2 separate regions of the Homo sapiens genome follow, and region 1 is linked to region 2. The links come from fine-mapping of genetic effects on gene expression. A gene starts in region 2. The other region holds a variant in brackets. All regions are shown on one strand. Distances are from middle to middle. Region 1 has its middle 25 kb from the start of PCNX1. Region 2 holds the start of PCNX1 (pecanex 1).

Evidence for each region.
Region 1: its variant is fine-mapped to the expression of PCNX1 in whole blood (TOPMed, PIP above 0.99).

Annotation. Positions count from the first base shown.
Region 1 is chr14:70,881,387-70,884,297 of GRCh38, reverse strand. No RefSeq gene overlaps it. Among named protein-coding and RNA genes, the nearest start is that of PCNX1, 25 kb to the left of the region's middle. The variant A/G (reference allele first, on the strand shown) is at 1,314.
Region 2 is chr14:70,906,256-70,909,166 of GRCh38, reverse strand. PCNX1 (pecanex 1) reads right to left here and starts at 1,708. Exons shown (of 36, transcript NM_014982.3): 1 at 1,164-1,708. The coding sequence starts at 1,316. RefSeq lists silencers at 556-895, 1,056-1,395, 1,616-1,805.

The sequences.
Region 1 (2,911 bases), 25 kb after region 2:
TTTTTCTCCCCTTTTACACTATAAGGTCTCTGAGAACAGAGAGCATCTGATTTTTTTTTTCTTTTTTCTTTTTTGAGACAGAGTGTCACTCTGTCGCCAGGCTGGAGTGCAGTGGCACAATCTCGGCTCACTGCCTCCTGGGTTCAAGCAATTCTCCTGCCCCAGCCTCCCGAATAGCTGGGACTACAGGTGCACGGCACCAAGCCCAGCTAATTTTTGTATTTTTAGTAGAGACGGGGTTTCACCATATTGGTCAGGCTTGTCTCGAGCTCCTGACCTCAGGTGATCCACCCACCTCGGCCTCCCAAAGTGGTGGGATTATAAGCGTGAGCCACCGCGCCCGGCCTATTTTTTCCTTTTTGATGGCCTTACAGTGCCTAGCAAAATGCCTTGCTCAGAGTAAGTGCTTGATATAAATTTATTAATCCATCAGCTGGATGGATGGATGGATGGATGGATGGATGGATGGATAGATGGATGGATGAATGGATGGATGGGAAGGAGGTTATAGGAATTGAGACTCTGGCTGAGCTTTTTTAGCCAGGTAGCCATGGCAGGAGAAAGGCTTCACCTTTCATGAGAGCGTATGGTCATAATCACAGAAGGGAAAGAATAGCTTGAACCATAGCTTGAACCAGTTAACCATGCTGCCAATAAAATCAGGCCACATGTGTTTACCATGTTTTATGTTTACCAGGCTGCATCAGTAGGATACTTTAAAATATGGGACAGAAATCCTGACTCAACCTCAAACTAGCTTTTATCATAAAGAAATGTATTGGCTCCAATGCAGGATGTCAAAGGCTGGGTAGGATTCAGGACTGGTGGATCCAGTGGCTCTTTGCATCTCTCTGCTGTGCTATCCCCAATGCTGACTTCATTCTGGGGAAAGATCCCTGGGTTTTGGAAGGCTTCCAGTAGTTGCTGGGTTAATTGCTTCCCTTTTCACCTCCTACTAACTTCCTGTGACTCTTTCTTAAGGGTAAGAAAGCATATTTTCCGGAAGTGTTTAGAAAACTCTTTATGACTCATTGGTCCCAATTGGCCTTGGCCTGCCTACCCCAGACCCATTCACTAGCAACGGGGATGGGGGTGGGGTTCACATCACTCAGGACCCACCCTAGAGCTGCAGTAGAACCTGTGATGGAGAGTCACTCCAACACCCCTTACACAGCAGACAGTTTTATGGGGGCCACTCCAATGAAAGGTTGGCTCTTAGGACCTTCTCATTTTAGACACGCAGTAAACAATGAAAAACATGTCATCCAAGAGATCTCATTGTCACGGATCTTACAATATATCTCTTGCCTAAG[A/G]GTCTTCCGGTGTTTCTTGTGCAAATCCAGCGGTTAGTCAACAGGGTTTATGGAACACATGCTGTTTAGATAGTGTTACTCTAAGCACTGTACAAAGTTAGAAAAACAAGACAATGCAGCTACTTAAAAAAAATTTTTTTTAGAGACAAGGTCTTGCTCTGTTGCCCAGGTTAGCTTCAAACTCCTGGGCTCAAGCAATCCTCCTACATCAGCCTCCTTAGTCACTGGGATTATAGGCGTGTGCTGCACTGCCTGGCTTATTTTTTTTTTAACAGTAGAATGAGCATTGAGGAAAGTAGTTCTCTTCTGTTAATTCTGCTCCGTTATTTTCCAGAGTGTAGAAACTGCTTGATTTCCTTCCTCCTTTCTTTGTCCCCTCTTATTCAGCTCTCTCTTTCCTGTCACTAATTTTCTCCTTTCTTATTCTTTCCTCATTTCAGGAAAGCAACATAGCGGAGATTAGGAGTGTAGAATCTGGAGTTAGATTTCTTGGGTGGGAATTCTCACTTTGAGTTCTAGCTGTGACTTTCCAGCCGTTACTTCATTTCTCTAAGCTTCTTTTCACTGGTAAATCATGTCTAAACATTATGCCTACCTCCTTGGGTTATTCTCGAATTTTAAAAATGATGCACATTAAAAATGATTACTAATGGTTAATGATTTTAATTTTCTTCTTCATCTTTTTTTAATTATGCCACATTTTGTGTCCTGTTCCTCCCTCCTACATCCCACAGTGATAGGCTGATAGAAAATAGTCAGAAATAGAGTGCACAGAATCAACTTCCTAGTGAGAAATGGAATGGAACCATTTCAGTTCCTTCTCTTTTCTTCATTATACTTCGAGTATTTAAAGAGTGCTATGTGAATACATTTAAGGCAATGGAAATGTACAAAACCAGTTGAGAGGAACACATATGTGGTACATATGGAAGCGGAAGTATGAATGCTCTGTTCTGCATAAGAATCCCCCAGCTCTCAGTTGCTTCATCGAGGCCTGGTTTGTTCAATTGGTTAGAGCACCTTCTGATGTAACCAAGATCACGGTTTCAATTCCAGAATGTGGTGAGCCTACTTTATCTATTTGATGGCTACAGCCTCCTCTGCTGAACCTGGCAACCATCTGTAAATGCATCCATTGTTTAGAAAATGATCAATCAGAGGAGCCCGGTTGAAGCAATGCAAATCAATCACCTTACTAGGAAACAACACGACAACAGAAAGTACATGCTATCATGGTGGTGGGTTAACTGTATGATGTTTGTACATGAAGAAGGCATAGACCATGACATCATTATAGAGTTCATGGAAAACAAATAGGTTTGAAGCTATAGGTTCCACAGCAATTCACAGCCTATAAAAAAGATTACTGCTACGTCCCTTGTTTTTAAGGCCCCCAGCTCTTCTTAGAGACCATTTAGAGAATAACTGCCTGTTCCTCTAGACTAGACTCAATTGCTAGAAGTATCTCATATGGGAAGACTTTCCTGACATCTTGTTCTCCTCTTCTCAACTTAATTTCTCTCCAACCTCCACCCCTTCTAGAATTATGTGCTCTCTTTACTATGCTCCTTTTATGTCACATAATGATGGTTACTATC
Region 2 (2,911 bases):
AGTGAAACTGAACTTCACTTAGGGAAGAATTGGGTGTCCTCACCTTTTGCACTTCTCATAGTGGTCCTCCGGGATTTTCTAACTCAGCACCCTGTCTCTAGCTCCACAAAGAACCTCAAAGTTAGCAGAAATACATTCAAAGGAATTCTCCTAAAATAAAAAGTTCAGATCCTTTCCTCCCCTCTGACTACTTTAAAATTTTATATGAAGCCTTAAGTAACATCTCTGTCCACACGAGTTTCCCTAACGCCCCACCCTAACCTGTGCTTTAGAAACTGCGCTTAACAACTTTCAATGTTGCTTTAAAAACACAGATGATTCAGAGAAGCTGATCGCACCGAATTCAGCAACAGGCAGTACTCTCTCTCCCTACTCCTATCCGCCAAAGGCCTTGAACCAAGCCAAACAAATCTGCTGAAATGCCAGCCAGATTCCCCGTTATCTCCCCGCTCCCTCCCCCCAGGGAGGCCAGGAAGCACCACGGCCACCGGCCACGGGGCCGAACAGAGAAGAACCGCTGCGAAGCACAACAACGGTTTTTTAGAGGCAGGAGGGTTCCGAGCCGGGTTTTCAGCCACCACCCAGGACCCCTGGAGGACGAGCCCGGACGACCCCCACACACACTCGGAGCAGAGCCGCACGGTCCCCCGCGCTCCCGGGGCTCCGCACGCGGATTAGCGGCGAGGCGGCGGGCGGCCTCTCCCGGGAGCCCCGGACGAGGGCCGCGGCGGGGGCGGGCAGTGCCGGATGCCGGGCGCCCGAGGAACCCAGCGTGCCAAGGATGGATGCGGCGTCCCCTAAAGCCGCAGAGCGCTCGGCGCCTGCCACACAGCCCCACGGGCGGGGGGCCCCGGCGGGGACGGCCTAGCCGAGTGGCCGCAGGAGGGAACCCCGAGAAGGGGCCTAGGACGCTGCCGCTTCCCAGTGAGCGGGCGGGGGCGGCCGGCGCGGGTTGCCGTGGGCTCGTTGCTCGTGTCACCTCCGAAACCAGGAAAGCCCCGAAGAGAGGAGTGGGAGCACGCAGTGGGGGCGGGGAGCCTCACACCGAGAGGGTGGCGGCCCCCGGGGGACGAGACCCCGTGGAAGAGGAAGAGGGCGCGACCCCAGCATCTCCCCACCGGCTCGCGGGGAAGGAGCCACCCGCTCCCCGCCCCCACACTCACCATGTAGAGGGTGAAGGGCAGGCCCAGCAGAAAGAGCCACAGGTAGAGGTGCAGCGCGTTCACGAAGGTGGCCTGGTGCGGGTCGTAGTACCAGCCCCCGCTGAGCGCGGCCCACACCCCCTGTCGGAGGATCTGCAGCGTCTGCGACCCCATCCCCACCCGGCGCCGCCGCCGTCGCCGCCGCCGCCGCCGCCGTCCCCGCCCCGGCCCCAGCTCGGCCTCGGTCGCCGGAGCCTGCAGCTGCCCCGTCTATCCACCTCCGGAGCTCCGGGTGAGCGAGCCGGCGCTTCGGCGGTCGCTGGTGCTGCTGCAGGAGGAGGAGGAGGCAGCAAACGAGGAGGAGGAGACCCGAGAGGAGGAGGCGGCGAGCGGCGGGGCGGAGGACGGCGGAGAGGAGGAGACCGGCCTTCTGAGAGCCGCCGCCATCTTGTCTCCTAACACCCGGAGCCGCGGCCCGGCCCCCGCCACCCGCGGCCCGCCAGCGCCCCCACTGCCGCCGCCGCGACCCCCGCCGGCCGCCAGCCCTGGGCCAGGCAGAGAAAGAGGCCCGGCGCCAGGGAGCGACCGAGAGGAAGCCGCGCCCCCTCCAGCTCCTCCTCTCCGCTCCCTCCGCCCCCTGGGCCGGCTACGGTGCGCGCCGCGCCTGGTCCGCCGCGGGCGCCTCCTGCCGACGTCCGGGAGAAGCGCGCGTCAACGCGGCCGGGGTTCAGGGCCCCGGGGGCTGCGGAGGTGGCTGAGACGCGGCTGGCTGGTCCGGAGGACCCCATTCTGCCCCTGGTAGGCCCCCTGGCAAGTTCGCCTACGAGTCTCTAAACGGGGTCTTTCTGACTCCGAAACTAACAGATCTTGACTCCAGAAAAGCGTCCTGCCTGTCATTTATGATATTTGTGAAAGACCTAGGAACAACTGAAGCTAACACCTGAGATACTGAAGGCCTGGAAGAGTTAGGTACGGCTGATGACACTGTTGAAAAGTCATAAACGCACCCAAGTTGAGCAAGAACTGTGTTGGCCCGTGTGTGAGAAAAAATAGCCACGTCCAGACTGGGAGAATTTACTACTTCCAAAGACAAGTTAATAGAAGCGGCACAGGACATGGAAGTATGGAGTGGACAGGTTACCATTTGTACGCGGTGATTGTATTTTTAAATGTGCTGTAACTAGCAGCCATTTTTATTAATGGGCCAATCTAAACAGGGTTGAAAAAGATTAACCGTGACGCCACCCCAAATTACAATAGGGTCTTGTAGATCTCTTTTTATAGCTGTAAAAACGGAATCATTCTTGGCTCTGTGTAATGTTTATAAGGCGTGTCTGATCTCACTGAATAAAATTTTATAGAAAAGTTTGAAATTTGAGTTTATTGAAGTTTGGCTTTTATGGCAATAAAAGTACTGTGTATTCCCAGATTACAGTTGCTATAATTAATGAGGGAAACAAGAGCCAAAGGAAACTGGTGATATTTTAAGAAGAGTAATGAAAAACCGTTACAATACCTCCCAGTGCCATACCACTTTATAGTTGCTCAGACACTATCACACCCATTCCATTCAGACCTCAGGACAACCCTTTGAGGGCAGCATAGCAGCTATTGTTATTTTATGGATGAGAAAACCTGTAAACTCAAGTAAGTGATTGGCCAAATGCTTATGGCCACTTATTGCTCATAAGCAATAAGTGGTTGAGAACTCTAAAACCAGCAGTCATGCTAACTGCATGCACTGAACTTTGGAAGTTCATTTCTCAAGG